2 separate regions of the Homo sapiens genome follow, and region 1 is linked to region 2. The links come from fine-mapping of genetic effects on gene expression. A gene starts in region 2. The other region holds a variant in brackets. All regions are shown on one strand. Distances are between the middles of the regions.

Region 1 (16,306 bases), 61 kb before region 2:
ATCCCTTCCCACTCTATCCATCTCCCCTGCTCTATAATCACTCACCAGATCCTTGTTTCTCAGGAAAAACGGGGCCGGGGGCATTTAGGGCACCTTCCCTGGGCTTTCCTCTGACCCTAGGCCTGCCCACTTGCTCTGCCCACTGTAACCCACTGTTCAGGGGGTTCAGAGGGACTCCTTGGGGGAAAATCCAGTTCGAAGCCAGCCCCTCCCCACATGCCTCCACCAGCGTCACACCCAGCCTCCTAGGCTGGAGATGAACTCGGGCCGGTGGGTCTCGGGCTGGGGTCCGCAGCCTCTGTATGGACCCTGGGCTCCTTCCCTCACAGCTCATTTTCTGCACTAGGTTCTGCCCACAGGTCCCTCCCCGCACCCCCAGGAGCTGTAAACACAGACACATGTTCTGTGCGCTATTCAGTCTGGGCTTGTGGCATCTCCCCAGACCAGGCTGCTTCTGAGCCTGGGCACCAGACTCAGAGGCAGCAGCAGGGAAGGTGGGGGGTGCGGGGAGCAGGGGAAAGGGAGGCAGGGAGAGTGTGTAAGGTGGCGATGTGCAAGAGGAGGGGTGGGACCCTCAGGGAGAGCCCCAGGGGCCCGGTGATTGTGCCACTGTCCCACCTGATGTCATCCTCATTGGCAAAGATGATGATGCCCCGGGCGTTGGGCGTCTCCATGAGTCTCCTGATCACCTTGCTGAACTCTCCTGGCTTTGGTTCCCTGGGAATCTTGATAGACTGGGCAATACAGACCCCCCCTGGGCGTTGGGGGTGCCAGAGTCAGCTTCCGTCCCACCCACCCACACACCCACCTGGCCACCGCTGCAGAGGACTGTGTAGGCTGGCTGAAGGGTCTGCAGGGGTGAAGTCTGGCCTGCACCCTCCGCCAAGCCTGAGGCAGGGCTGAGTCGTCCAAAACAAAGAGGTCCCGCCCACATGGAGCACCAGCCAGGCAACCTCGGCCCAGCATGGACCTGGGCCCCCCATCTTTCTGCTTCTGCCCCAACTGAGGGCCCCGGGCCCACACTATGTAGACTCCTTGGTGCCTCGGAGCCCCCAGCTCACCAGCCTCTCGGGAGATCTGAACGAAGGCCTCAACCCCACTTTCGCCATAGTTGCCCTCGGAGGCCAGCGTGGACACATAGTTCCATCCCAGTGCCCTCACGATGTCCACCATGGCCTGCGCCTGGTAGGAGTCGGGTGGCACCACCCGGGAGAAGAAGTCATAGCGTGTGGAGTCGCTGAGCTCCGGGGCTGTGGAGGCATAGCTGATCTGGGGTATCTGTGGGGCAGGAAGGACAGCTGGGCTGTGGATGGAGGTCAGTAACTCAAGAGAGGGAGGGTAAGGGGGGCCCAGGACACGGACGGGGCACAGAAGGTGTGTGGCATGGACCTGGGACACAGATGGGAGATGGAAGGGTTGGGGTGGGGACCTGGGGCCAGCTGGAGCAGCCACCTGGAAAGGCTGGAAGCTGTGGTGTTTTGCGAGTGGGCCTGAGAATTCCGTGAATGCTGTGCAGGTGGGAGGTATGCAGGGCTGGGGAGAGGGCAGGACCGCCACATATACTGGTACAAGCTGTGTCCTGAACAAGGACCCCCAGCAGAGGGCCTGCAGCCCATCCAGCTGCATCTGCCTGTCCTAGTCAGGCCCAGGGCAAAGCACGTTTTCTTGATTCACACCAAGGGGTGGTCCGCAGGGACAGGCAGCCCTAGGAGGGATTAGGGCAGACAGGGGAGCAGCAGGGGATGTTCCATTTAAAGCTGTGTCTGGCCTAGGATGGGGATTGTTGGAAACTGGGTTTCTCTGCATGCATTAGAGTGATTAACAGCAGAGACCAGAGGCTGAACTGACCGGGGAGTGTGGAGGCAGAGACACGGGGCTGAGAAGGCCGCCAAGAGGGGGCTATGGGGCTCCAGCGCAAGAGGGGCTATAGCAGGAGCTGGTGTGAAGGCCAGAGAGGGGGAGTTTCTGGAAGGAGGGAGGGGGGCTGGTCCAGGGTTGTTTGAAGCAGGATAGAAAGTATAGAGACAGCATGAAAAGGAAGCCGGGAGTGGCAGGGAGAGAGAAAGAAAGAGGGAAGGTGGGGCTGGAGAGAAACAAGAAGGAGAGAGGGAGAGAGAGAGAGAGAAACAACTGAGGAGACCGAGAGACGAGAAAGGCCCAGTGGCCACAGCTCAGTGAATAATGCTGTGGTCCTCCCAGCTCTCCTGGACACTTGAGTTTGGGAACAACCCTCCCATGCCCCCTGGACCTCCTGAGGGAAGTTAATTTAAAATGCCTGCCAGCACGGTCATGTGGCTGGGAAATGAATGTAGTTCTTTTAGACCAGGAATTGCAGCATCTTGCCTGTGGCTGTGTTTTGCACAGTTTTTATTAATGTTTGCATTTCTAGCCGGGCAGCACAACCTCAATCTGGGCTGAGCTGGCAGCAGCGGGCCCTGGGCTCACAGAGTCCTGCCCACCTGAGTCCCCAACTGGGCCCCTGAAGGCCTTGGGGTCTGGAATCTCTGCATTCGACCTAGAGGACAGAGACAGAAACTAGAGCTCTAGGCAGGGCCGGGGACACATACAGGTGGGTGAAAAACCCCTGGGCGGCCGCACAGCCTGTCTGGTGCCAGCGTGGAGATGTCACATCAACACTGCCAATCCGAGGAAACAGGGATGGGGGCTTTCATGTGCGCAGACGATAGGGAGCGGCCCCGCACGCCTGGAACAAACACAGACGCTGCGCCCGGGAGTCGGAGAAGCTCTCAGGAAACAGAAGTTCCTCTCCTAGGTAGATGGAAGCCAGGCCTTCCTCCTTCACAGAGAGCCGGATGCACACAGGCCCCTCCCGCCACAGAACCCCAGAAAAACTGTCCCACAACCCCCAGTGAATGACCAAATCGAAAACCCCCAAACTTGTATGCCAAAGCCCTCCTAATCCCGATTCTGCTGGCCCCTAGGACTGCAAGGAACACGCTGCCCCTCACGGGACAGTTCCCTACATTTGAGGACAGAGCAGGGCCAGCCCGGGCACCTGCGCAGGGCAGGGTGCAGGAGACCAGAGCTCAGAAGGGAACGCCCCGCCCTGCTCTCAGATGCCCCTTGAGGGAGAGTTCAAGGCATTTTGAAAATAAATTTAAATGATCAAAAAAGAGAAAGACCAGACCTTTCAGGCCTATCCATCCCCCATAGCAGCCCAGGGACACGCCCCAGTTGCTGCTCTGGAAGAAGGGCCCGGGTTCCAAACAAAACTCAAAGTTGCAATATCACTCGAGCGCTCCGCAGGCCCAGGGGGCAGGAGCACCTTGTATGGTTGCAGGGGTGTGCCCAGAACAAGGGCACCCGAGCAGGCTGGCAAATGGGGGCTGAAGTCAGGCCGCCCTCCCCAGCCAACCGGCCAGAGGCGTAGGTGGCACCCGCCCGGGAAGGGGCGCCCTCGCGGGGCGGGGTAGACATGGGCGGCTGGAGTGTTTGGGTGGAGCCGATTCAGGCCTGCGTCGGGCTCAACTGACAGGGCTTCTTTGACGCTGTGTGAATTCGAGTGATTAAAACGGAGACTCTTTCAGAAGAAGTAAAGGAAGGAGACTTGGGCCACCCCAGGGCGAGGACGGGAGAGGGACGCTGGACACCGAGCCCGGCCCCGCGGCCCTCACCGCAAACAGGCGCAGCACGTTGGCGACCATGATGGAGACGGAGCTGGCCGAGGCGCCCACGACGGCCACGACGCGCTCGGGGGGCGCGGGGCGCAGCGGAGGGACGCCTCCCGGGCAGCGCACGCCCACCTCGTCGCCGTCGCCGCGGCCGCGGATCAGCGCCTGCACGAAGCTCAGCGCCTGCTCCAGCGCGTAGGTGTCCCGCGAGCAGGTGTCCAGCAGCCGCGCGCCCAGGCGCACGCCGGGCAGCAGCTCGGGGTCGGCGTTGACGCGGTCCAGCGCGTACAGCATGGCCTCCAGCCGGTGCACGCCCTGCTCCTTCTTCAGCTGCCCGCACGCCCGGCCCGCCGCGCCCCGCGCGTGCACCGGGAACAGGCCGCCCAGCGTCAGGCCGCCCGCCAGGCGCACAGAGCCCGCCGCGCGCGCCAGGCCCGCCTGCGCCAGCCACGCCAGCGGCAGCAGCGCCACGAGCAGCGGCTCCCGGGCTCTCCGGGGCCGCGCCATCGGCTCGTCTAGCGGGCTGCGGGGAGACAGAGGGGCGGGGAGCGCTCTGAGGGCGGGGGAAGGAGAGCGCGGGCTCGGGGCGCGGGGAGGGACACCGGGGTCCTGGGGAGAAGGCGCTCGGGGCGCGCCTTCCACTT[C/T]GGCTCTGGGGAGTTAGCTCAGCCGGCCTGCCCGGGCCTCCGTCTCGCTCTTACAAGCGCCGAACCCTGTCGCCCGGGGTCCCGCCCGACCACTGCCTCCACCCCTCCAGCCCTGCCGCTTCCCGACAGCTTGGCCCCTCTTCCTCGGGGTCCATCCCCAGCGCACACCCAGGCTCCCGCCCCAAGCCAGTCACCTGCGCCAGCCGCTGTCGGTTCAGGACAAGTCTGTGACAGATGCGGCCGAGGCCCTGAGCGAGAGAGGATTTAAGGATTCTAGGGAGGGATGAGAGACCGCTCCGAGGGTGGAGACCCCTCCTGAGTGTGGGGGGTGGCGGTGCTGGCTCTCCCCGCATCTCCTTCCCCTCCCTCTCCCAATCTCTGGGTCTGTTTTCCTGTTTTCTTGTCTTTGGTTTGCGTCTGACTCAGACTGTCTGGCTGTCTCTGGGGCTGTGTCTGACACAATCTCTGTCCATCTCTATCTCAGTCTTCTTCTGCCTCTAGGTCTCTGTTTCTCAGTCTCTGTCCCTGGCTTTCTGCCTCTGTCCTCTTCTTGGAAATCTTTTCTGTCTCTGTCCCTTCCTGTCTCTCCCTGCGGTTATCTCTCTCTGTCCCTGACCCCTTTTCTGTCTCTCTGTCTCTGTCCTGGCCACCAGTGCTCCTGACTGCAGTTGCCTAAGGTATTCCCCAGCTTTCTCCTTGCAGAACCCTGCAGGGGGCAGGGGCTGCCTGAGCTGGGAGGGCCTAAGGAAGAGGAGGAAGAGCGAGGGGCAGGAAGGGGCCAGGAGGGAGAAGCCTTTAGTATTAGCGAACTTACAACACCCTGCAGTCGAGAAACAGCCCTCGAGGAGTGAGTTGAGTTGCCCAAGTGCATGCAGCTGGCATGTGTGGGCATCAGGATTCACACCCAGAATGGCATGAAACAAACAGCCCACACTGCCTTGGATGGAGGGAGGGGAGGGGCCGGCTTTCCTCGCAGCTCCCACTCCCGCCTATTGCTTGGGAGGATGGAACCCCGCGGGGTCGTTCTGGCTCCGTATAAAGTCTCCTCGGGCTCTGGGTCTGAGGCAGCCACTCGAGCTGCGGTGCTCACTGTGCCAACGCTCTCTGCACCTAACTCCCCATCTCATCGTGGAGGCCAAGGTGAGGGGGCTTGGCCAAAAGATGCTTTTATCATCCCCCCATCCGAGGCCCAGGATTTGGCTCTCTGATGCCAAGAGAGCAAAGGGCGTCCTGGAGACAGGTGGTGAGCTCCTAGCCACAGGGATTAGCAGGCTCCTCGTCCGAGGGCCTGAGCCGGCTTGGGCTCCATTAGACAGGCTGGATTAGGGTGGCTGCGGGGATTTGGACAAGGCTGGTAGAGGGAGCAAGCAAGAAACATGCCACCTTTCTCTCTTCCCCCGCCTCTCCCAGGCCCCGATAGTTTCTACTGCCAGAACCACTTCTCCTGGTGGAAGCCCAGAGTCAACAGGCTGGGCCTAGCCCTGCTCCTATCCATTTTAACAGTGGGAAGGGTGGGGAGCTTGGCTGGTGCCAGGCCCTGAGCCTGACATTGCGAAGGACTGCATAAACTGGGTTTGGGAGGTGGATGGGCCCTTCCCTGTTCAGGACGAGCCTGACAGCTCCCAGCACACAGCAGCCTCCTGCTTGGCATGACCAAGGCAGCCACTGCCCCTGTCTGGAGGACAGACCATCAGGAAGCGGGGGCAGCAGCTGGGGGACTGGCAGGGGGTCCTCGCCGTGTAGGAGGGAGGCATGCACACCTGTGAGCAGGGGGCTGGAGGAGAAGGGGAGGGGGGTGGCAGGATTTTAGACCTGATGGAGATTTGGCTCTTGGAGGGGTGGAGGATGGCATAGCTGCTGGGGCATTCCCTGAGAATATGAGGACCAGAGACACAGCTGAGCAGGTCAAGGAGGGCAGAAGCCAAGAGTTCGGGTTTGGGCAGGAAAGTGGAGGCTTCGTGGTTCATGAGCCTGGAACTGAGGGAAGAGGCCAGGGCGGGAGAGAAAGCTGAGGTGGGATCGCCACGGAGGCGTTTAAAGCCGTGGGACGCAGGAGTTCCCTGGGGCTGAGAGTGTGGACAGACAGTGAGGCTGGAGCCCCAGGAACCCCAACATGCAGGTCTGAGCAGAAGTAAGGAGACTGGGAGGGGGTGGCCGAGGAGTTAGAGGAGAAGCAGGAGCGTAGGCACCAGAGGGGCCCAGAAACAAGGATTGAGGAAGGAGGGAACATTCAGCATAATTTATTCAGCCCCGTGCAGGGGCAGAAGGCCAAAGTGCACCTCGCACAGGCCATAGGGCCCTCTTACAGCATCCTGATACAGCTGCTCAGGCTCGATGAGGTAGCACAGAATTTGTACAAAATGCACAGGACGTCATTTAAAAGGTTGCCCCAAGAAGAAGTCCTGCTGTTCCCTGACCCTGGGACTGTTTTCCTCAGCTGGGCTGCTATGGCAGAGTTCCACACAGACAGTCAAAGAACAGAGATTTTTTTTTTTTTATGGTGAAAAGCTTTAATAACAGACAATGTGATTTCATACGCAACCAATCAGCAGATTAACAAATCATTTAACTTTCTTTATATAAAACCAATATTCCACTCAAGAAAGATGAACCAGAATGGATCCTTTTACACTCACCAACCTAACTGAGTACAAATGAAGTCCATGATGTACCCCGTTAGCATGCTACATGTGTGTCAGTAAAACAAGCCCTCCCCCACCCCAAGCCCTGGCCCCCTGGCAAACAGATAAATGACGTGCACTGCGTGATGATACCATAGGTGAGAACTTTGGTTCATGCAGTCAGCTGGCATAGAGGTTGCACCCCAAAACCCCCGCCCTAGCACCCATAGTCAGTCGGTGGTGGGGGCTCATGGTGTCAGCTGTGTTCCTTCCACACCAGGTGAATACTGTGGTCAGGAATACTGGTGGCAAAGGCCAAGCCCGTGTCATTGTGCCCATCTGCTCCATTCAGCCAGGATGCTTCGCCTGCCAGGAAGCTTGAGCCTCTCTTTGATTTCTTGTACTCTGGAAGAGGCCAGCGATTAATGAGGCTCTGGGTCTGCAAGTCCATGATGTACAGGTGGCAGCTGCCAAACAGTAGGGCAACAGTATTTCCAAAGCCAAGCAAGGCCAAGTTTGCTATCTCAGGAGTCTTGATGACCCTGAGAATATCATAACTGTTGGCAAAGTCCCGCTGCTAGAGACGGAGGGCTGAACTACAAACAGTGTATTTGCCATCAACACGAAGTCTTGGCTGCAGGCGGATACTTCTAACCTCAGAGACAAGAGGATGTCTTTAAGCACTTGCAGTTGATTTCTGTCCCAGTTGGCCAAATCTTAATCTCATATTTGTCTGCACTTAAGAGGAGGTATCCTTCAGGACTGTGTGCAAGAGAGACTTGACTTTGCACTTCTGCAGAACTACCTTGGTGACCCATGGCGTGTGCCCAGTGAGTGTGCTCAGGCATGCCCCAGTAGATAAAGTCCATCCTTTCACAGTGAAGGCCGCAGAGCCGCTCACCAAGGTATCATTGTAGTCCACGCTAAACACTGCCCGCGTGTGCCCGCGAAAGTGCCGGATCCTGGCTCCGGAACTCCATTCCCAGCAAGCCACAGTGTCGTCAAAGGAGTCTGTCACAAGCTTCTGTTCATTGAACTTCACCACGGCACAAGTGTGGGTCTGGATGCCACAAACGCACTGCCCTGTGGTCACACCCCATAGCTTTGCAGACCCTGTGGCTGTTTTCCTCAGCTGGGCGGCCATAACAAAGCCCCACAGACAGAGGGTTAAAGAACAGAGATTTGTCTTCCCACTGCTCTGGAGGCTGGGCGTCTGAGATCAGGGTGCCATCGTGGTGGGTTCTGGGGCGGGCCTCTCCCTGGCTTGCAGACCATCCTCTTCTCCTTGCGTCCTCATGTGGCCTTTTCTTGGTGTGTGCAGGAGGAGGGAGAGTCCTCTTGTCCTCTGCTCATGAGGCCACCAGGCCTATCGGATTCGGGCTCCACCCTCGCGACCTCATCTAACCTCATCCCCTGTTACAGCTCCGTCCACTCTTACAGCACTGATATTGCCAGTAGGGCTTCCGCGTAAGAATTTGGGGACATAACTCCCTCCATAGACCCTCTGACTGGGCCTGAGGCATCCAGGGGAAAGAGCAAAGGGCACCCAGTGGGACTATAGGGGGGTGGTTCAGTGCACACTCAGGGCTACAGAGCCCAGGTCTAAATCTTGGCCTGGTCACTTTTTATCAAGGTGACCTTGAGCAAGTCTCTGTACCTTTATTTAGCCTCAGTGTCCGTATCTTTTTTTTTTTTTTTTTTTTTTTTGAGACAGAGTCTCGCTCTGTCGCCCAGGCTGGAGTGCAGTGATGCAACCTCCGCCTCTCCGGTTCAAATGATTCTCCTGCCTCAGCTTCCTGAGTAGCTGGGATTACAGCCACCCGCCACCACACCTGGCTAATTTTTTGTATTTTTAGTAGAGATGGGGTTTCACCGTGTTAGCCAGGATGGTCTCGATCTTCTGACCTCATGATCCGCTTATGAGTGTGGCATAGAAATGCAAGTGGGCCGGGCGCGGTGGTGCGTGCCTGTAATCCCAGCTACTTGGGAGGCTGAGGCAGGAGAATCACTTGAACCCAGAAGGCGGAGGTTGCAGTGAGCCAAGATCACACCACTGCACTGCAGCCCGGGTGACAGAGCGAGACTCTGTCTCAAAACTAACAACAACAACAACGAAATGCATGAAGTGTAGGTTAATTTGGAATCCATAATAAAATAAGTGTCTATCCCTAAATAACCCGTGGTACAGTTTTGCCTGTTTGTGACATTATATAAATGAAGAGGGAGTATTTTCTTTTTTTGAGAGGAAGTCTCGCTCTGTCGCCCGGGCTGGAGTGCAGTGGTGCGATCTCTGCTCACTGCAAGCTCCGCCTCCCGGGTTCACGCCATTCTCCTGCCTCAGCCTCCAGAGTAGCTGGGACTACAGCCACCCGCCACCACACCTGGCTAATTTTTTGTATTTTTAGTAGAGATGGGGTTTCACCGTGTTAGCCAGGATGGTCTCGATCTTCTGACCTCATGATCCGCCTGCCTCTGCCTTCCAAAGTGCTGGGATTACAGGCGTGAGCCACCACGCCTGGCCGAGAGGGAGTATTTTCAAAAGGAAAATCATAAAGTAATTTGATCAAATCTGAATCTTAGCCTAAGTAAAAGGCCCAAACAGCTTTCCAAAGGAATTGAACGCATCATATTGGGGTTTAGAATTCATCATTTTCATGATACCAGTCCATGTGGTTTTTATTGCTTGGCATTGGCATTGGCTTGAAGTTCAACGTGAACACCAACTCTTGGGCTCACAGTTTTGATAATGGAGGAACTGCCTCCGTTTTGAAACAGAAATGTTTAAGTGCACAATGCACCAGACACTGGTTTATAAAGGCTGTGTTTTATTTAAGCTGCCTTTCCACAGGGCAATGAGGGATTTCAAACATGAAATATATTTGAGAAACTTCATTTTAAGGAACCCATTAGTTAGGGGATATTGTTTTGTTTTTAAACAGGAAGATCTTTAACCAGAACACAAATTTTCTTCAAAATTAGAGAAATCAAAGTACTATACAACAAGGCCATAGAATATATCTCCGAGAAGTCATCCCAGATCTACAGTGAACATCTACTCAGAACATGGCTCAGAAAACTTTTTCTTTTTGACTTTTTCGGGGCTTTTTTTTTTTTGACAGGGTTTCGCTCTGTCACCCAGACTGGAGTACAGTGGCCCAATCATGGCTCACTGCAGCTTCCACCTCCTAGGCTCAAGCAATCCTTCCACCTCAGCCTCCCAAAGTGCTGAGATTGCAGGCACAAGCCACCATGCCTAGCCAAGAAAACTTTTTCCTAAAGGGACATGTGTAGGCTGAATAATACCCTTGCTTCTGTCGAAGTTCTAATTCCCAGAACCTGTGAGTGCTGCCTTATATAGCAAAGGGGACTTTATAGACGTGATCAGATTAAGGTTGTGAGATCCTGAATTGTCACGTGGGCCCCATGTAATCGTAGGGCCCTCAGGAATAAGAGAAGGTGCCATGAAGATGGCAGCAGGGAGTGATGCAACAATGCTAAATGTAGCCTTTGAAGATGCAGAAAGGGCCAAGGAATGCCCCTCTGACACCTGGGAAAGGCAAGGAAGTGGATCTCCCCGAGAGCACCTGGATGGGGGCAGTCCTGCTGACACCCTGATTTCCATCCCCTGAAACTGGTTTCAGACTGTGAGAGAATCAATTTGCGTTGTTGTCATGAACTGAGTTTGTGGTAACTTGTTACAGCACCAATAGAAAACCAGTGAGTAAACATGTTTGGCTTTGCCCCTCTGTCATAACTTTTGACCTCTGCCCCTGTGGCACAGACACCATCACAGGCAATAGCTAGAGTCAGCCTCGCGGGCTCGGCCAGGGATGGAAGCCACTCGGCAGCTGTGTGACCAGAGTCAGCCTCGCGGGCTCGGCCAGGGATGGAAGCCACTCGGCAGCTGTGTGACCAGAGTCAGCCTCGCGGGCTCGGCCAGGGATGGAAGCCACTCGGCAGCTGTGTGACCAGAGTCAGCCTCGCGGGCTCGGCCAGGGATGGAAGCCACTTGGCAGTTGTGTGACTGGGATTCTCATGATCAGCATTGGCTTAGCTCAGGATCCCCAACGACCGCGACCACTAAGCCTGAGACAGGGCTCTGGAGGGCCAGCTGGAGGCCACAGCAACACACACACACACACACACACACACACACACACACACACACCCCCCAAGAGAAAAAGCCTGGGAATGATGACACTACAGAGTTGTGGATAAAAGACAGTCTTTTCAATCAATGAAGTGGGAAAATTAGGTGCCCCTATGAAAATAAAAGGAACTATACCCCTACCTCATTCCACACACCAAAATCAATTCAGATGCATTATTTACCTAAATGGGAAATGCAAACTGTATTAGTCTGTTCTCACACTGCTATAAAGAACTACCTGAGATTAGGTAATTTATGAAGAAAAAAGTTTTAATTGACTCACAATTCCACATGCTCTACAGGAAACACGGTTGAGGAGACCTCAGGAAACTTAAAATCATGGCAGAAGGGGAAGGAGAAGCACGCGTGTCTTCACATGGCCAGAGCAAGAGGAGTAGAGAGAAGGGGGAAGTGCTACACATTTTTAAACAACCAGACCTTGTGAGAGCTCGCTCGCTATCATGAGAACAGCAACGGGCAAGTCTGCCCCCATGATCCAGTCACCTCCCACCCGGCCCCACCTCCAATACTCGGGATCACATTTCAACATGAGATTTGCATGGGGAACAGAGGCAAACCATATCACAAACCAATAAATAGGTCAAAGATTGTAGGTGAGAGTATTTCATGACCTTAGGGAAAGATATCTTAAACTGAACACACAAAAAAACTAATCATAAAAGAAAGGAACTATACATTTGACAACCTTAAAATTAAGAACTCTCTTACAGACAGCATAAGGATAAGGATGAAATGTTGATAATGATCAAAGCTAGATGATAGGTTTATAAGAGTTCATAACACTATTTTTCTAGAAAACAAAACAAGAGGAAAAGACTCCATAAAGAGAGGGAAAAGGCAAGCCACCAAGTGGGAGAAGATATTTATAACTCATATAACCAACAAAGCACTAGGCTACAGCATGCAGACTGAACTTCTATGAATCAATCATAAAAACAAAAATTACACATTAGAAAAATGGGCAAAAGATTTGAGCAGTCAGTTCACAAAAAAGGGTATCAAAATATCTATAACAATATGAAAAAATTTAGCCTTGTTAAAATTAGGGAAATGTAGATTTAAACCACAATGAACTATCCAGCAGAAAGGCTAAAATTGAAGAGATTCAAAATTCCCTGTGTTAAGGGTGATGAAACATAGGAATCCTCATGCACTGCCAGTGGGAGGGTAAATTGGTGCAATTTGCAAGAACACAGTCTTGAATTATTTACTAAAGTCGAAGATACACATGCCCTAGGTCTCAGCAATTATATTTGTAGGTATATTCCCTAGAGAAATGAATGCACAGATATATGCATATGAACATTCAAGGTACTGTTATTTATTAGAGAAAAAAATGGAACAAATGAAAGGTACATTGTAAAATGAATAAATAACTTGTGGTATTCCATGCACTGAAATGGAATATTATATAGAAAAAGGAGTGAGCCAAAATGACAAGTAATAGCACAGATTAATCGTCCATATAATTGAACACGCATACTGTAATTCCATTTTTCATAATATCCATAAACAGGCAAAGTAAATCACAGTATGTAGAGATGCACACTTCCGTAGTAAAAGCACAAAGAAATGCAAAGAAGGATCATGACTGGGAGGTGACTTGTGAGAGCACTTGTGGGTTGTGAGGGATTATGCAGGTGTTTTTTATTTTATTTTATTTTATTTTATTTATTTATTTTTTTGAGACGGAGTCTTGCTCTGTCGCCCAGGCTGGAGTGCAGTGGCGCGATCTCGCCTCACTGCAAGCACCGCCTCCCGAGTTCACGTCATTCTCCTGCCTCAGCCTCCCGAGTAGCTGGGACTACAGGCACCCACCACCACGCCTGGCTAATTTTTTTGTATTTTTAGTAGACACGGGGTTTCACCATGTTAGCCAGGATGGTCTCGATCTCCTGACCTCGTGATCCGCCTGCCTCGGCCTCCCAAAGTGCTGGGATTACAGGCCTGAGCCACTGCGCCCCACCTATGTGGGTGTTTTATTTACACTCTTCTATTACACTGAACATTCATGGTCTTGCATTTTTTTTAAATTTATGTGTTACTTTTCACAATTTAAATATTTTAAAACATAAAAAAGTATGACAATTAGAAAACAAAAAGTAAGATGTGAGAACTAAGTTGAAGTATCTTCGTAACTCAAATAAATGTAATTCTGCTAAATGTTTCAGTTTAAGAGACAAAAATTTCAAGTTTTTGTGAAACAAAATCCAGTTTAATGTTGCTTATGAGACTCCCCTAAAACATAAGGCTGCAAAGTTGCCCCTGTCAGACCCATGTGATGGTTCACTGGAAGACCCTACTTGAAAGGTGTCTTTATTTTACCTAATTCAGTGCTCCCCCAGTGCTAAAAGTTAGAAATAAAAGTGGGGACATTGTTACTGACCTTAGAGGGATAAAAATAGTTATAAGAAAATACTACAAACAATTGTGTGCTAACAAATTAGATAACCTAGATGAAGTGAACACATTCCTGGGAACACACAAACTACCAATACTGACTCAAGAAGAAAATAGAAAATCTTAACAGACCTGGCCAGGCGCAGTGGCTCATGCCTGTAATCCCAGCACTCTGGGAGGCTGAGGCGAGCAGATCACGAGGTCAGGAGATCGAGACCATCCTGGCTAACCCAGTGAAACCCCATCTCTGCTAAAAATATAAAAAATTAGCCGGGCGTAGTGGTGGGCGCCTGTAGTCCCAGCTACTTGGGAGGCTGAGGCAGGAGAATGGTGTGAACCTGGGAGGCGGAGCTTGCAGTGAGCTTAGATCGCGCCGCTGCACTCCAGCCTGGGTGACAGAGCAAGACTCCGTCTCAAAAAAAAAAAAAAAAAAAAAGAAAATCTTAACAGACTTATATTGTTACCAGCAATCAAAAATCTCCCAGAAAGGAAAAATCTTTCTTTCACTGGGTGAGTTCTAGCAAACAGTTAACATCCATCCTTCTCAAACTCTTCAAAAAAAAAAAAAAACAAAAAAACAAACAAAAAAAAACAGAACAACAACAACAAAAGAAGAGAGAACACTTCCTCAACCATTCTATATATGAGGCCCGCATTAACCTGGTACCAAGCCGGACAAAGATATACAAGTAAGCTATAGACCACTATCACTTACGAATATAGATGCAAAAAATCATCAACATAATACTAGAAAACTGAATCCAGCAGCATGTAAAAAGGATTATGCACCACGAGCATGCGAGATTAATCTCAGAAATGCAAAGGTGGTTCAACATATGAAAATCAATCACTATAACTCACCACATTAGTAGAATGAAGGAAAAAAGCCACACGAGCATCTCAATCAATCTCAATCAATGCAGGAAAAGCACTTTTTAAAAATTGAACATACTTCTAGAATAAAAACACTCAGAAAACTAGGAATAAAAAAGGGACTCATTCAACACAGTAAAGGGAATTTATGAAAAACTCATGGCTAACATACTCAATGGTAAAAGATGAAAGCTTTCCCCCTAAAATCAGGAGCAACACAAGAATGCCCACTTTCACCACTGCTATTCAACATTGTACCAGAAGTTCTATCCAGAGCAACTAGGCAGGAAAAAGAAATAAAAGCCATGTATACTGGAAAAGAAGAAGTAAAACTCTCTATTCAGAGATGAATGATCCTTTATTTGGAAAAATCACACAGAATGTACAAAAAAAACCCTACTATACTTAATAAATTAATTCATCAAATTTGCAGTGTATGGGACCCATATATGAAAATAAGATATATTTCTATACATCAGCAATAAGCTCAAAAGTAAATAAAAATTAAATTAAGTAAATTAAAGTAAATTAAATAAATTAAATTAAGCTCAAAAGTAAATTAAAAACAAATTCCTTTCACAGCAGTATTCAAAATAATAAAATACTTAGCAATAAATTTCACCAAGACAGTGAGAGACTTGGGCACTAGTAACTATAAAGTAAGGCTGAATTAAATGAAAGAAAACTTAAAATAAATAGAAAGATACCCTGTGTTCATGGATTGGAAGATTTAATATTTTTCAGAAATGGCAAAGCCAATCCTCACATATATATGGAATTGCAAGGGGCCCTGACCAAAACAGTGTGGTATAAGCGTAAGGATATCTAGATCAATGGAATAAAATTAGGAGTCCAAAAATATATTCTAACATATTTATAGTCAATTGATTTTCAAGGAAGGAATCAAAATCTACAGCCAATTGATTTTTGACAAGGGTGGTGAAACCATTTAATGTGGAAGAAAATGGTCTCTTAACAAACGGTGTTGGGATAACTGGATATACATGCAAAAATATGAATCTGGACTCTTTCCTCACATCATACACAAAATTTAATCAAAATGGTTCAAAGACTTCAATGTAAGATTTAAAACTATGAAACTCTTAGAATAAAACATAGATGTAAATCATTATTCCCTTGGATTAGACAACAATCTCTTAGATATGGTATGAAAAGCACAAACACTCCAAGAAATAATAAATTGGAAACTTTTAATTAAACAAAGTAAATTAAAAACAAAATGTAAAACTTTTGCCATCAAAGAAAACTATCAAGAAACTAAAAAAGGAAACCAGAGAACAGTAGAAAATATTTTTAAACATTTGATACATTCTATACATCTGATAAGGGTCTAACATTTATAATTTGAACAGAACTCTTACACACACACACACACACACACACACACAGAGAGAGAGAGAGAGAGAGAGAGGGAGAGAGAGAGAGAGAGGTTTGTTTTGAGGAATTGGCTTGTGTGATTATGGAGCCTAGCCACTTTGGCAGTCTGGAGCCCCAGGAAGAGTCAGTGTTGCAGTTCAAGTCCGAAGGCCATCTGCCGGCAGAATTCCTTCTTGCTCTGGTGAGGTCTGTTTTTTGTTCTAGTCAGGCCTTCAACTGATTGGATGAGGCCCACCCACATTATGGAAGGCAATCTGCTTTACTCAAAGCCCACTGTTTTAAATGTAAATATCATCCAAAAACACTGTAACAGACACATCTGAAATAATATTTAACTAAATATCAGTATTGTGGGCTAGACAAGTTGACACATAGAATTAATCATCAGAAGTCTATGTCAACTTGACATGCATATGTATCTGCTTAAACCATATTCAATCTCCAAACCAAGACAACTAAAGGTCATACTTCTGCCTAACAGGATAAACCCCTGCATACAACTGAAAGTGCACTAATCCTTTCCCCAGAAGATGAAAAGTCTTTAGGTGATGTTTGCTCTTCTGCTTG
Region 2 (16,306 bases):
GTAAGCTGACCGGGCACCTCTCATTTACCCAAGTTGAGATTGTCTGGGTAATCTTCCCTAGGGCCTGTAGCTATCGCTGCAGTTCAGTTTCACCCAACTCTTGGGGAGTACCCGGAAGTCCTCGCAGTATAGGAGGAGGCCTATGATATAATATTTCATAAAGGGAGTATCCTGTTTTCTTAGAGGGGGTGCACCTAATTTTAAACAATACCATAGGAAGGGCCTATATCCATTTTAATCCTGTCTCTTGACATACTTTCCCTAAACTATTTTTGATAGTCCAATTCATTCCCTCCACCTTTCGGGAACTCTGAGGTTGGTAGGTGGCATGTAGCTTCCAAGTGATTCCTAATACCTTTGCCGTCCTCTGTACTAAGTCAGCCACAGATGCCGGCCCATTATCTGAGCCGATTCGTAGAGGCAGTCCAAACCTAGGGATGAGATCTCGAAGAAGCACACGGGTTACTTCACAAGCTTTTTCAGTTCGTGTTGGATAAGACTCTATCCACCCAGAGTAAGTACACACTAGAACAGTAAATACTTGTTACCTCCGCATTTGGGCATCTCTGTGAAGTCCACTTGAAGATCTTCAAAGGGAGCTGCTCCACAGGCTTGTGTGCCGGGAGGAACAGGGGACCTTGCTTTGCATTGTGCATCGCCGCGCTACTGTTTTAGCAAGAGCTGGCAAGTGTGAGATGTAGAAATACCGGCTTAACAGCTTTTCAAGTGACTCCTGGCCTAAATGGGTAGTTTCATGTACAGCCAGCACAACTGCGGCTCCTAGCAGCTGTGGCACAGCTATTCTCCCATCTGGTGACTTTATCCATTCTTCTTTTATTGTTTGTCCTCCCTTTGCCTGAAGAACGTCTTTTCCCTTTTTAGAATAAGTAGGCACCAGATCAGGTGTTTGAGGGAGTAGAGGGGCTGTGACTGATGCCTGGTAAAGAGTAGATGCTGCTTTTTGTGCCTCTGTGTCTGTTCGGGAGTTTCCTTGGCTTACTGAGGTGGAAGCTTGCAGGTGTCCCCTGCAATGCATGACTGCTACCTTTTGGGGTTTCCATACTGCCTCTAATAATTGCAGAATTTCTTGTTGATATTTTATGTCCTTTCCCCCGGAATTTAACAGGGCTTTTTCTTTATATAATGCTCCGTGCACTTGGAGGGTTAGAAAGGCATATCGAGAGTCAGGATAAATGTTCACAGTCTTACCTTCACGGAGTTCTAGAGCCCGGGTTAAAGCAATGAGCTCTGCCTTCTGGGCTGAAGTGCCGTGAGGCAACGGTTTGTCTTCAATAACATCATCCAAGGTCACCACCGCACATCCTGCGCATCTTTCTCCTTGCGGATTGATGAAGCTGCTCCCGTCCACGTATAACTCCCAGTCCACTGATGCCCATGGCTGGTCTCGAAGATCGGGCCTGCTAGAATAGACTGAGTCCAACACTTCCACACAGTCATGTTCGACAGGGCTGTCTGATGCTGGGAGTAAGGTGGCAGGATTCGGAGTGTTACAGACGTCAGTGGTTATGTGGGGGTTTTCACATAACAAGCTTTGGTACTTGGTTAATCTAGCATTTGTTAACCAATCATGTCCTTTGGTATTCATTAAAGTTACCACTGCATGGGGGGGGCCTTTATACTTAAGTTTTGCCCAAGGGTTAGCTTGTCTGCTTCTTGTGCTAACAGGGCTGTAGCTGCCAGGGCTCTCAGACATGGAGGCCAGCCTTTTGAAACTCCGTCTAGCTGTTTTGAGAGGTACGCCACTGGTCTTGGCCAGGGCCCCACAGTTTGGGTTAAAACTCTGACTGCCATTTTTTGTCTTTCTGACACATAGAGTGTAAAGGGCTTTGTCAAATCTGGTAGTCCTAAGGCTGGGGCTGACATAAGTTTTTCCTTTAACTTGCAAAAGGCTTGCTGTTGCAGAGGTCCCCATTCAGAAGGCTCCTGGTCGCCCCCCTTTGTAACCCCATACAATGGTTTGGCTAGCACCGCAAAGTTTGGAATCCATAATCTGCAAAATCCCACGGCTCCTAGAAATACCCTTACTTGCCTTCTGGTTTTAGCGGGAGACTTGCTTAGTAAGCTGAGAGCCACCATTTCCTTTACAAAACAGGGCTCTTTGCAGGCTGAAGTTACAGGCAACAGGAGTTATCATGGCCCTTACAGTCCCACGAGAAGAAGAATGGAGACTTTTTCTGAGCCAGGTCAGGAGATAAAACTGGCTCTAGCTAAGAGTGTGGGCAGAGGACAATCCTCCGGGCTGGCCACTGCAGTAGGCAGTAGCTTAGGTTCCGGTAAGCTGCAGGTGACCTGCTTTCTTCCTGACCCCAGGCTGCGCTCCCCTTTCCGGATAGTGAATCCCAGGTAGCGTACCTGCTGTCTGCAGATCTGAGCTTTCTTCTTGGACACCTTATACCCACAGTCCTCCAGGTGTCAAAGCAGGGCATCCGTCCCTTTTGCACACCCATCTGCCATGGAGTCTCCTAGCAGAAGGTCGTCCACGTACTGGAGCAAGATGCAGCCTAGGTCTTTAGCAGGAAACTTCTGGAGGTCTCGAGCCAACGCCTCCCCGAAGATGGTGGGGGAGTTTTTAAACCCCTGGGGAAGCCGAGTCCAAGTGTACTAAGTAGTGACACCTGACCCCGGATCTTCCCACTGAAAGGCAAACAGCTTTTGGCTCTCAGGAGCTAGCCTGATGCTAAAGAAGGCATCCTTCAAGTCCAGACAAGTGAACCAGCTGTCCTCAGCCAGCAGCAATCCTAACAGTGTGTAAGGGTTAGGAGCTGTTGGGTGCAGAGTCACTGTAGCTTGGTTAACCAAGCGTAAGTCCTGTACAGGTCGATAGTCCTTGGTCCCTGGCTTGGGGACAGGTAGGAGGGGGGTGTTCCATGGATACTGGCAAGGAACTATAATTCCAAAATCTTTCAAGCGTTTAAGGTGAACCTGTATTCCTTCAAGAGCTTCTCTGGGAACCAGATACTGCTTTTGTCTAATTGGCTGGGCCCCAGGCTTAATTTCTATGAGTACAGGGGCTTGACTGATCGCCAGCCCGGAGGATTGTCCTCTGCCCACACTCTTAGCTAGAGCCGGTTTTATCTCCTGACCTGGCTCAGTTAGAAAAAGTCTCCATTCTTCTTCTCGGCGGACTGTAAGGACCATGGTAACTCCTGTTCCTGGTAACTTCAGCCTGTAAGGAGCCCTGTTTTGTAAAGGGTGGCTCTCAGCTTACTAAGCAAGTCTCTCCCTAACAAAGGCAAAGGGCAGTCAGGCATTTACAGAAATTGATGAGTCACTTTGTGTCCTCCCACCGAGCAGGTCCACGGTAGGCAGAAAACCTGCTTGGCGGAGACTCCCGTTGCTCCGATTATATCAATGGTTTTCTTAGATAAGGGGGTCACTGGGGTGGTTACTACTGAGTGGCACCGGTATCGACCAAAAACTTAATGTCCTTGCCCCCTATTGTCATCCTGACCATGGGCTCCTTGGGGGCATTTGAGCCCAGTCTCCTTCAGTCTAGCAGCCCTTCGGCCAGATTGCACAAAGTCCCTTGGTCTTTATCTGTGGTCTTTTGCTCCGCATCACCTTGCTTCTCCTTCAGTTGTGGACACTTATCTTTCCAAGGTCCTATTTCTTTACAGTAGGCACATTGGTTACGCTGCAGACGCGAGCAATTGGACTGGGCATTCCTCCCGGAACCCCCCTTTCCCTGCCCTTTGTGGGGGATCCCTCTAATTGCTGCAGTCAGCAAATTAGCGTTCTGTCTGGCCTGGCATTCGCCTTCCTTACAGAGGAGACGTTACAGCAGACCAATGCACCAAAAGTGGAAGTCGCAGCAGAGAGTTTAATAATTGTAGGGCAGCCAAATGAGGAGTTGGGAGGAAACCTCAAATCTGCCTCCCCGAGAGGTTTGGGGATGGGGTTTTTAAGGGATCTGGCTGTGTGAAGGGCTAAAGTGTGGGGATTGATGATTGGTTGAAAAGTAAGGGGTCAAGTCATGGGACAGGGAGAGGAAGAAACTGCATTCCTGTGTTTAGTCGGTTCCCTGGCGGGGATCTTCAGACCCACTGGCGTCAGCCATCCTGCTGGAATTCAGGATCTGGAAAACACCTTAAGCAATTCTTGGGTTAGAAGATCCAGTGTCAGAGATTCTGCCTATAGGAGCAATGGGGGAGCAGGTGGTCGGCACACTACAGGACTCTTGGTTAGTTAGAGCTTCAGGGAAGTGGGTCAAAGGGCACCACTGCACCCTGCTCAATGTCTAACTGTAATTCTCCCTAAACTCTGGCTTGAAATTCTCACTAACCCTGCGAGGGTGGTTTCAGAGCCATCGGGGCAAGGGAATTCTTGCTCAGCTGGCTTTACAGCATTCTTGCTAACACAGCAAAGGTGGGGGATGAGAAACTCTGTCAGATAGTAAGAATGATCAGATGTCAAGAGTTGGGGGATTCTTGCTAAACTGACTTATCAAGACTCTTTGCAAAGACTGGGCTGGGCAGGACAGAATGAGGGCCAAGGTCAATGCCTAGTGAAAACGAGGGCTCAGAACGGCCTGACTAAAGTTTGGTCAAGGAGGTAGTCTTATCACTCTCCGCTACTCAGCGCATTCTCGTCTCGTTCAGAGTGAAATCCACTGACACAGAACCCATTAAGAACCTCCACGTTCTGCCCCCTTGCCTAGGATCTCCTACTGTTCTCTCCCTTTTCTTTCTGCTTCAGCAACAGTGTCCTTATTGTTCCTTCAACAAGCCAGGCATGCTCCCACCTCAGGGTATTCGAATCCGCTTTTCATTCTGCCAGAAAGACTTCCCACAGATACTTAAATTGGCCCATCCCTCATCTTCTGCAGGTCTTTCTTCAAATGTCACCCTCTCAATGAAATGTTTCTTAACCACTTTGTGTAAAATTGCAAACTCTCCCACCCTCCATGTTCCTGTTCCCTTTTTAAATTCTTGTTTGCACTTACAGGGAAGTTTAAATTTTTCCCCTGAAGTTTCGATAATTTGAGTCTATAAAACAAAATGATACATAGCTGAATAGGAAAAAAAGGCATACAAATTTTATTAAAGTTCATACAAGCACAGGAGTGATACAACATACAAAAACTCAAAGAAAGGCAAGGTAGTTGATATTTTTATACCATCTTGAAGTTACAGGAAGAACAGGGGCTTGGATCACGGCTAAGGCGGGTTATAGGAGGGAGAGAAGAGGAAAGACCTGAAGAAAAGGTAGACTCATTATGCAAATGAAGCTGCACAGGTAGCAGCCTAAGAGCAAATGGTAGCCCGTGGTTAAAGTTTGCACCAGATTTTCAAAGGTGTCAGACTCTCAGTTAGTCTTTCTCAGATCTGGACGAGGGGAGAGCCTCAGAGAAAGCCTATTCACATCTGTTGTTGACTGCACTTCATTTCCTCAACAGATGCAAGTCTCCTCTACAAAAGACAGCTTTTCAGGACTATTCCTGTCTGCAAGCTCTCTGAATAGCCATCTCAAGATATGTCAGGGAAGTATGTTTTGGAGTGAATTATTTTGGTTGCCTTCACACTCATCTCTATCTCAAAACGTATTTATTCCTCTTATTATCTTTCCTCTCTCTCTTCCAGTAAAATTCAAGCTGCATTTGTGCACAGGTTTTGCCAGTTTTGCCCACTGGTGTATTTCCAGAATCTGGCACAATGCTAGGCACAGGATAAGTGTTCAACATAATTTTTGTTGTTGCTGAATGAATCAATAATGAAATCCTATACAGTAATGAAAAGGAATGAACTTTGCATGTATCAAGGTAGACTAATCTAAAAGTGTTTGTGTTGAACACATATATACACATGATACATATATGCATGTATATACACATGATATATATACATATATACACATATAGGCATATACACATATATATGCAGAAATCTTTATATAAAGGGTATCTGCTATATACATACATATTGTATATTGTATAAAAGTTGAATACAATGTACAATTGAAACTATACAATTGTATATTGTATGTATATAGCAGATTACCTTTATATACATACATATTGTATATTGTATGTATATAGCAGGTTGTCTTTTTATAAAGATTTAAAATGTTGCAAAAGTAAACAATGTTTAGGGACACATGCATGTGGAGTAATTATCAAACAAAACAAAGGAATGCTGAAAGCAACTCAGGAAAATGACTTGGGAGCACTGTGAACAAGGCTTCCAAATTTTGGGTAAATTTCTCTTTGGTAACCCAAGTGTTGGGTATGTGGGTATTTGTTTTATTATTATTAAACCATGGGCCTCGCACAGTGGCTCATGCCTCTAATCCCAGCACTTTGGGAGGCTGAGGTGGGCAGATCACGAGGTCAAGAGATCAAGACCATCCTGATCAACATGGTGAAACCCCATCTCTACTAAAAATACAAAAATTAGCTGGGCATGGTGGTACGTGCCTGTAGTCCCAGCTACTCAGGAGGCTGAGGCAGGAGACTGCTTGAACCTAGGAGGTAGAGGTTGCAGTGAGCCAAGGTCGCGCCACTGTACTCCAGCCTGGCGACAGAGTGAGACTCCATCTCAAAATAAATAAATAAATAAATAAATAAAAACAAAAATCTGTGCCTATGAATACATTATCTCCTGTGTATGGTACACATTAAAAGAATTTAAAATAACATAACTATCTTGTGGTTTTGATTTGCATTTCTCTGATGATTAGTAATGTTGAACATTTTTCATATACCTGTTGGCCATTTGAATGTCTTTTTGAGAAATGTCTATTCAGGTCCTTTGCCTATTTTTTTTTTTTTTTTTTTTTTTGAGGCAGGGTCTCACTCTGTCACCCTGGCTGGAGTGCAGTGGTGCTATTTTTGCTCACTGCAGCCTCAACCTCTGGGTTCAAGCAATCCTCTGCGCTCAGCCTCCTGAGTAGCTGGGACTACAGGCCTGCACTGGCATGCCTGGCTAATTTCGTTTATTTTTTGTAAAGACAAGGTCTCACTATGTTGCTGAGGCTGCTCTGGAACCCCTGGGCACGAGTGATCCATCCACTTCCGCCTCCCAAAGTGCCGGGATTACAGGCATGAGTCATTGTGCCCAGCCCTTTGCCCATTTTTAATGGGACTCTTTGTATACTGTTGTGGTTTTTTTTGTTTTGTTTTTTCTTTGAGATGGCATCTCGCTCTGTCACCCAGGCTGGAGTGCAGTGGCATGATCTGAGCTCACTGCAACCTCCACCTCCCAGGTTCAAGGAATTCTCCTGCTTCAGCCTCCCAAGTAGCTGGGGTTTCAGGCATGCACCACCACGCCTGGCTATTTTTGCATTTTTAGTAGAGACGGGGTTTCGCCACATTGGCCTGGCTGGTCACAAACCTGTTATTTGAATTCTTTGTATATACTGGGTATTAGTCCTTTGTTGGATGAGTAATTTATAAATATTTTCTCTCAAGTTGTTGCTTCACTCTGTTGTTTCTTTTGCTGTGCAGACACTTTTTAGATTAATATAGTTGTTTATTTTTCTTTTTGTTGCCTGTGCTTTTGAGGTCTTAGCCACAGACCTCAAAAGCACAGGCAAGAAAAAGAAAAATCTTTGCCTAGATCAATGTCCTGAAGAGTTGTCCCGATGTTTCCTTCTATCAGTTTTATAGTTTGGAGTCTTTAAATCTTTAATCTATCTGGAGTTGACTTTTATATATGTTGAGAGAGAAGGGGTCCAAGTTCATTCTTCTGCATATTATTATCCAGTTTTCCCCAGAACCATTTATTAAAGACGTAGTCCTTTCCTCATTGTGTGTTCTTGGCACCTTTGTTGAAAATCAGTTGGCTGTAAATGGGTGCACTGATTTCTGGGTTCTCTTATTCTGTTCCATGGGGGGGTGTGTGTGTCTATTTTTATACAAATATCATGCTCTTTTGGTTACTAACACTTTCTAATTAGATATAAGCTCACTCCAGTTAGAATGATTATTATTATAAAGACAAAAAAATGACAGATGCCAGTGAGGATTTGGGGAAAAGGGAACTCTTATACACTATTGGTGGGAATGTAAATTAGTACAGCCACTATGGAAAACAGTGTGGAGGTTTCTCAAAAAACTAAAAATGGAACTACCATACAATCCAGCAACCCTACTACTGGTAAAGGGAGAGAAATCAGTATATGAAAAGGATACCTGCACTCACGTTTGTCACTGCACTATTTGCAGTAGCCAAGATATAGACTCAACCTACCAGCAATAGATGAATGGGTAAAGAAAATGTCATACATAGACACAATGGAATACTATTCTGCCATAAAAATGAATGAAATAATGTATTCACAGCAACATGGATGGAGCCGAAGGTCATTATGTTAAGTGAAATAAGCCAGGCACAGAAAGACAAGTACTGCATGTTCTCACTTATATTCGGGAGTTAAAACACTTGATCTCATGGACATAGACAACAGGAGGATAGATACCAAAGGCCAGGAAGGCCAGAAAGGAAGGGGAATGAAGAGAGGTTGGTTATGGGTACAAACATACAGTTAGATGGAAGAAATAATTTCTAATATTTAATAGCAGACTAGGGTGACTATACTTGGCAATAATATTGTGTATATTTCAAAGTAAATCGAAGAGAGGGCTTGAAATGATACCAACGCATAAAAATGATAAATGCTTAAGGTGATGGATACCCCAAATACTGTGACTTGATGATCATTACAGTCTATGCACGTAACAAGCACTCACATGGACCCTATACATTATGTAAATTATTTTGTATCAACAGAAAAGTAATCACAACCAGCGGTGGGAGCTACAGCACACTGATCCTCCTAAATGAATCTAATTTCCGGTTTTGTTTTTTCAAACTACTCCGCTTGCTTAACAAGTGCGCGGGCTGTAGGCAGCACGGCCAGCAGCTGGAGACCTCCTGCCTCGTGTGCGGCGTGCGTACTCCCTCGCACTGCAGCCCCTCCGCGCACTGTCGCCTTTGAGAGCTCTCGTTGGCGGAGGCGGTTCCTCTCCCGGAGTTCGCAGCGCGCACCGCGGCGTCCCCTGGGAAGTGTAGTCGGCGTGGGGCCGGAGGCATGCCGGGAGTGGTAGTTCTCCCGCGGTTGGCGGGGTTTCGGGGACAGCTCGCGGCCTTTCGGGGGTTCTCCTGGCTTGGGCCATCCAGGCTTGGCTAGGATTGCCGGCCTGGGGTTGAGGCGCTCGCAGTGGTCTCTTCCGGGCCGGGGTGGATCCGGGCCTCTCCAGCGAGTGGGCGGCGTGCAGCCTCGTCTGGGCTTCTGGGACCAGCCCTACGCGGCTCGGGCCCCTTGGCCACTGGGTCCCGGGGCGCCGTCCGCGAGCGGCCTGGACTGCCGGAGACCCGCGGGAGGGAGCGCCTCGCCAGGTGAGCTGGGTGCGCCGGGCCGCTGGGGTGGGGATGCCAGCCTTTTGTCGTTGTTCATTCTGCGATTTTCTTCTGTGCATTTTCTTCTGAGTAACGGAAATAATAAAAGCAATAGCTGATGCCCGCCGAGAGCGCTCGGGTGCCAGGCACCAGACTAGCGCATCGCCCGAACGAACTCCGCGCATCCCTGCTAACAGATAGGGTGGCGGTACGCTGTTCCCGCTCTGTCAGGAGGAGACCGAGGCAGAGTGGCGAGGTCATTGCCCCAGATGTAACTGGGGCCTGGGGCTAGGATCAGGATTGCCTTCCCGGCCCTTATGACTTTGGGCAGGTCACGACCTCCTGGTTTTCAGTCTCCGTAACATCTGTAAATGTGAAGATTGAAAATACTGCGTGGAAAACACTCACCGCTTCCTGGGAGGAGGTGCGCTTCGTCGCGTAACCGAGGCCTTGTGTGGCAGCTTCCCCTGGGCTGGTCGAGGCACCCGCTGGAACTGGCCTGGCAGAGCCCCAGGTTGGCTCCATGCTAGGGGGCACCCTGAGTCGCCGCTGCAGATCGCGGGCCTGGAGGCCCTCACACTTGCCCGGCTGCCCCAGGCAGCCTCTTCCCTTGCTTTCTGTGGGGCGGGCACGGTTTCCACCTCTCCCACCTGGGGTTGGTGTTTGGGCAGCGACGGCTGTTTCTGGTTGTGGGTGCCATTAGAGGCGGCACCTGTGGAGTATTAGGAGGGACAGCAAAGCTCTGGCTTTGGGTGGGGACAGTGCCTTAATCCTGTTACCTTGGGTAAAGTGTGGTAAGGCCCGACGAAGATCTAGTAAAGAGGCTGGGAAAGCTGAGTGGTTGGATTATGCTCACAGTTTCTTGGGGAGAACACAGCACTCCACGGAAGGACCACTCAGGGCGAGCAGTGGGGTCTGTCACCAGGGTAGGGATGCGGGGAAGCCTCTTTATCGTGGCTACCATAGGGAGGAAAGGGTGAGGCAGGGCAGGCAGGATGAGGATCAGCTAGCTAGGCTGGGAAGTGGCGCCCCAGGAGACTGGATATTCATTGCGACTTTTAGGTGTGCAGTTCAAAGCTAGCGAAGGACTCCAGACATCCATGGGGGAGTCACGGTTTGCCTAGAGGTAGCTGAGAGGCCCGAAGGTGGAAGTTAAAGAGTCCAAGTGCAGAAATAGAAGTAGGGTTGGCACATTGCCCTAGTAAACTAGTAAACACTCTTCTTGCTTTACATCATTACGGGGGGTGGCTTTTTTGAGACCTGATGGACATTATGGGCGGTTGTAACTTCCTCTCTCCAAGCCATCTCCTGACGCCAGGGTTCCTCTTGACACCTTTTTCCTCTGCAGACCCACCGTGTCCACACTCTGCTCTCCCTGGGCAGGAAGACTGAGGAGGAAGGGATGGCTGTGGATCTGCTGTCTGCTCAGGTGAGAGTGAGTGAAGGTTGTCTTTTTCATCAGTTGGCTTCTGGATTCAGAGATGGTAGACATGTTTCCAGACTTTGTCCAGGTACTTTTTGGTCCAACCAAAACGATGAAGAATCCGGAACCTCAAAAGTTTTTCCCAGTGTCTTGGGCTTAGCAAGGGGCTGCTGAGGAATGTGCCTCTTTTGTCCCGAGACTACTCTTAATTCACCCCGCTCACTCTGTGATCCACATTTGAGGCAGTTCTGAGCATATGCTTCCCACTACACTGGTGCTGGGTGGGGAGAATGGGGCATGAAGCAGTCTCTGTCTTCATAGAGGATATAGTCACACTTGGGGCTAAGATGTGGAAGGGCCGGAAGACAGCCTCCACAAGCATTTATTGAGCCCTATGTACAGGATCCTGTGCAGCACACGGGATGGAAAGAGGAAAGCTGTCATTTCCATCTTCTGGGAGTTCGTGGTATCGATCTTAGGAAACATGATTAAATGTTCAGGGGAAATATCCCAGAAGTGGGGGCATTCTGAGTTTATACTGGAGGCCAGGACTGATATTGGTGCTTAGAGAAGACTAAGGGCATCCCAGAAGGAGTTCAGCGTGGTTTGGGCTTTGAAGCCCAGAAGGAGGCAGGCCTGGGGCCTTCCCCTCCCAGTGCAGCGGGGATGTTAAGCTGTCCAAATGTCCATCTCACCTGTCTGATTGATTCCTCTATTTCCTTCTCTGATTCTTTTCTTTTTTCTCTGCTAGTTTAGCCTCTCTACCTGGGCTCTTTTTTCTTGTTCTTTCCCCATTTAAGATCCATTTTCATTACTTTAACCCTCAGCGTTCTGAGTATCTTCCCCAAATCTGTCCTCAGGCCTGACCTTTTTCCTAGCATTCCTGTCTGTCATTCCGACGTGGAAGTCCCATCTTTCCTTCAACACCAGCTCCCTTTCCTCTAGTCCCCTCCCTTCTGTGCATTTTTTCTGCCATACTCCAAAGCCTATTCTTCATTGACTCCTTTTCCAATAGCCCATAGGCTGGAAATGTGGACTCAGGAGCTTGACTTCATGGCTTCAAATCCAAGCTAGGGATGTAGCCCTGAGCAAGTTATTTTATCTCTCTGTACCCCATTTCCTCAATTTTGGTGGGGTTAATAATATACATACATGACTGAGTTGCTATGAGCATTAGTAACAGTAGTAGCTGGGCACAGTAGCTCACGCCTATAATCCCAGCACTTTTGGGAGGCCAAGACAGAAGGATTGCTTGAGCCCAGAAGTTTGAGACCAACCTGAGCAACATAGTGAGGCCTTGTCACTATACAAAATTAAAAATAAAGTAGCTGGGTGCAGCAGCACCTATAGTCCCAGATACTAAGAAGGCTGAGGTAGGAGGATCACTTGAGCCCAGGAATTCGAGGCTGCAAGTGAGCTATGATTGTGCCACTGCACTCCAGCCTGGGCACGAGAGTGAGACCTTGTCTCAAAAAGAACCCCAAAAAGTAGTAATTACAAGCATATTTGCTGTGAGCCAGGTTCTATGTATTACTATGTATAAAAATATCTATTCCTTTCATATAGTAAGTCATTTAATCCTTACAAGAGGACTGTTAATATCTGGATTGTACAGATGAGGAGACAGGCACAGAGAAGCAAGTAACTTGATCAAGGTCACACAGCTGGCTTTTGATCCCAACAAGACAGTCTATACTGTTAGCATCATGCTCTGAAAAAGTACATTTAAAATGCTGAGAGAAGTGCATGGCACGTATTAAGACCTCCATAAATTCCAGCTGTTACTATGATCAGTATCAGTAACAGCAGCAGCAGCACTATTTTAGGACCTGCCAGATTTGGTGTGCTTCGCCTCACTAGGCCTGATTCCTTAATTAGAAGCAGATGGATATTTCAGGAAACCAAGACGTAAAGACCAGCAAAATGCAGTGCACAGGAATATCCAGCTATTACCTGGGCTATCTGCTGCCCAAAGGTAGGGTTGTTCGCTATCTGAGCTCGCCTACATCCACAGCAGGAGAGACTTACTTCATTTTAGCCAAGGGCAGAGGTAGGTTTGTTTGCAACTCAGAGCCAGTTTTTGTTGTTGTTGTTTTTGGAAGGGGTGACAGCTGATTCAATATCTAATCCTTTTGTGGGTTTTTGTTGTTGTTGTTGTTGCTTTTTTTTAGAGACAGAGTTTTGCTCTGTCGCCCAGGCTGGAGTACAGTGGTGCGATCTCGGCTCACTGCAGGCTGGAAGGAACTCTTGGGCTCCTGCGATCCTCCTGCCTTGGCTTCCCAAAGTGCTGGATTATAGGTGTGAGCAACTGTGCCCGGCCAATATGTAACCCCCCTTTTTTTTTGGAGACAGAGTCTTGCTCAGTCGCCCAGGCTGGAGTGCAGTGGCGCCATCTCGGTTCACTGCAAGCTCCGCCTCCCGGGTTCACGCCATTCTCCTGCCTCAGCCTCCCGAGTAGCTGGGACTACAGGCGCCCACCACCACACTGGCTAATTTTTTTTTTTTTTGTAGAGACGGGGTTTCACCATGTTAGCCAGGATGGTCTCCATCTCCTGACCTCGTGATCCACCTGCCTTGGCCTCCCAAAGTGCTGGGATTACAGGTGTGAGCCACCGCGCCCGGCCTATGTAACCCTTTTGATTAAGTCTCCTGGGGACCCAGAGTGTCCCAATCACAGGTCTCATTACCCCATTTAAGTCAGTGCAATGGTGATATCCAATATCACATTCTGTCCTCATTAAGGGTACCGAGGGAGAAATTTCTCTCTACTTGTTAGGAAAACTGCAAACAAGCATATTTTTTGGAAAAAAATAGGTTCTTTGCAATATTACATATTTCCATGTAATATATAATTTATTGTCTGGGGAAAAGGCACATGGAATTTGGTATTGATTGCTTAATAGTCATAATTTGTTAATTACATATTTTTCTGCAGTAAATAAGTACTTTTTTGATATTGTCAGTATTTTTAAAAAGAATAATCTTTATTTTTTTTACAACAATTTTAGACGAGAGAATAATTACACAGTTATCATACCCTGCACCCAGCTTCCCGTTATTCCCTACATTAATTTGGTATATTTGTTACAATTAACGAGCCACCATTGGTATGTTATTATTAACTGAAGTCCATGCTTTATTCACATTTCCTTAGTTTTTACCTGCTGTCCTTTTTGTGTGCCAGGGCCCCCCAGGATTCCACATGACATTCAGTTTCACATCTTCTTAGGCTGCTGTGGCTTTGGGGCTTTCTCAGACTTTCCTTGTATGTAATGATCATAATAGTTTTGAGGAGTACTGGGTTAGGTTGTTTTTTGTTTTTGTTTTTGTTTTTTTGTTTTTTTTGAGGTGGAGTCTCACTCTGTCACCCAGGCTGGAGTGCAATGATGCGATCTTGGCTCACTGCAACCTCTGCCTCCTGGGTTCAAGTGATTCTCCTGCCTCAGCCTCCAAGTAGCTGGGATTACAGACATGTGCCATCACGCCCTGCTAATTTTTGAATTTTTGATAAAAACGGGGTTTCACCATGTTGGCTGGGCTGGTCTCGAACTCTTGGCCTCAAGTGATCCGCCTGCCTGGCCTCCCTAAATGTTGGGATTACAGGCAGGAGCCCCCATGCCCGGCCCTGATTAGGTATTCTGTAGAATGCCCCTCCATTGTGATTTGCGTGATGTTTTTTCTCATTATTAGCCTGGGGTTGGGTTTTGGGGAGGAAGGTCACAGAGATGAAGCGTCAGTCTGATCACAGCATACTACAATTGCATACTAATAACATGACATCCCTGTTGCTGTTCACCTTCATCACCTGACTGAGGCACTGTTTGTCAAGTCTCTCCACTCTACAGTTACTTTCTTTTTCTGCCTTCCCATACTGTATTCCTTCGAAAGACGACACTGTGTAGCCCACACTTACGGCCTGGCAAGACAGGCACCACTCCTAGAGGTGAAGAATCAACATACATTATTTGGAAATCTGTATGGAGGATTGTTGCTTCTCTCCATTTATTTATTTATTCAAACATTCATTTATATCAGTATGGCAACCATGGATCTTTCTGCTGTCTGTACATATCAATTATGCTTTAAAAACTTTTTTTTAGTGGTTACCCTATAGTTTTCAATATAAATTTACAACTAATCGAAGTCCACCTTCAAATAACATACTGCACCATGGGTAGTGGAGGTGTCTTATAACAGAGTATTCCCCTCTTCCTTACGGCATTGCTGCCATTCATTTCACTCATCCATATGCTATCACCACCCAATACACTGTTACTATTATTAATTTAAGCAAATAGTTATCTTCTAAATCAAGAGTAAGAAAAATGTTATCATCATTTGTTCCTTCTCTATCTTCCCTCCTGTCTTCAGGTAGATTCAAGTTTCTGACCTATTTTATTTTCCTTCCCCATGAAGAACTTCTTTTACTATTACTTGCAAGGCAGGACTGCTGGTAATGAATTCCCTCAGTTTTTGTTTGTCTGAGAGAGCTTTACTTCTCATCCTTTTTGAAGGATAATTTCCCTGGATATTGAATTCTACATTGGTGATTTTTTCCCTCAACAATTTAAATATTTTGTTTCACTCTCTTCTTGTTTACATGTTGCTAATGGGAAAATCCACTGTCATTCTTATCCTTGTTCTCTATAGGTAAGATCTTTTTCCCTGTCTTCTTTCAAGATTTTCCCTTTGACTTTGGTGTTCTGCAGTTTTCATATAATATGCCTAGGTGTAGATATTTTGGTAGTCATCCTGCTTGGCCTTCTCTGACTTTTCTGGATTTGAGGTTTGAGATGTGCTGCTAATTTTGGAAAATTCTCAGCCATTATTACTTTGGATATTCACTCTGCTCTGTTCTCTCTTTCTTCTCCTTATGGCATCCCAATTACATTGTAATTTTAAATGATCAAGTAGAATTGTATTTTTAACATGGAAGGATATACATGCTATATAGTAAGAAGATTTGGAATATGAAATGACAGTAATCATTTATCATTTCTCACAGTTTCTCTGGGTTAGGAATGCAGGTGTGTGAGAGAAACAGCTTACCACACAAAGTCGGGTGTCTCAGCTGAGAGATTTAAAGACTAAAGGCTATAGAATCGTTTGAAGCCTCAGTCGTTCACATGTCAGGTAGTTGATGCTTGCTGTTGGCTCATTGCTGTGATCACAGATAGGGCTATTGGATGGAGCATCTACCCATAATCTCTCCTTGTGACTTGGGCTTACAACATGGCGACTAGGCTCCAAAAGTGAGCATCCAGTGAGCCAGGTGAAAGGTGTATTATTTTACTACTTTTTCTTGGAAGTTACATGCATCATTTCCATTGAATTCCACTGGACAGCTTCAAAGGAAGGAAACATAGAACTCACTTCTTGGTGGGAGAAATGTCAGTGTCACATTATACAAAGAGCACGTAAGATGAGAGAGAAATTGATGTGGTCATCTTGGGAAAGTATAATCTTCCACATTTGTCAGAATTAAAATATGTATAGCCTGTAATCCCAGCACTTTGGGAGGCCAAGG

Which allele goes with the higher level. Positions count from the first base shown, and alleles are read on the strand shown. Sizes are in standard deviations (SD) of each study's normalised expression.
For the expression in vagina of the gene that starts at base 9,063 in region 2, C is the low allele of the variant in region 1 and T is the other (small effect, 0.26 SD a copy in GTEx).

Evidence for each region. PIP is the estimated chance that this variant, and not a neighbour inherited with it, causes the effect. A credible set is the group of variants that fine-mapping cannot tell apart.
Region 1: its variant is the best candidate, but not a certain one, in a credible set for the expression of ZNF354C in vagina (GTEx, PIP 0.51).

Annotation. Positions count from the first base shown.
Region 1 is chr5:178,990,806-179,007,111 of GRCh38, forward strand. It overlaps GRM6 (glutamate metabotropic receptor 6), which reads right to left and starts at 4,515. Exons shown (of 11, transcript NM_000843.4): 1 at 4,471-4,515; 2 at 3,636-4,155; 3 at 1,062-1,278; 4 at 619-754. The coding sequence starts at 4,139. It also overlaps the pseudogene LOC100288803. The variant C/T (reference allele first, on the strand shown) is at 4,277.
Region 2 is chr5:179,051,311-179,067,616 of GRCh38, forward strand. It overlaps ZNF354C (zinc finger protein 354C), which reads left to right and starts at 9,063. Exons shown (of 5, transcript NM_014594.3): 1 at 9,063-9,356; 2 at 10,705-10,785. The coding sequence starts at 10,759. RefSeq lists an enhancer at 9,382-9,917.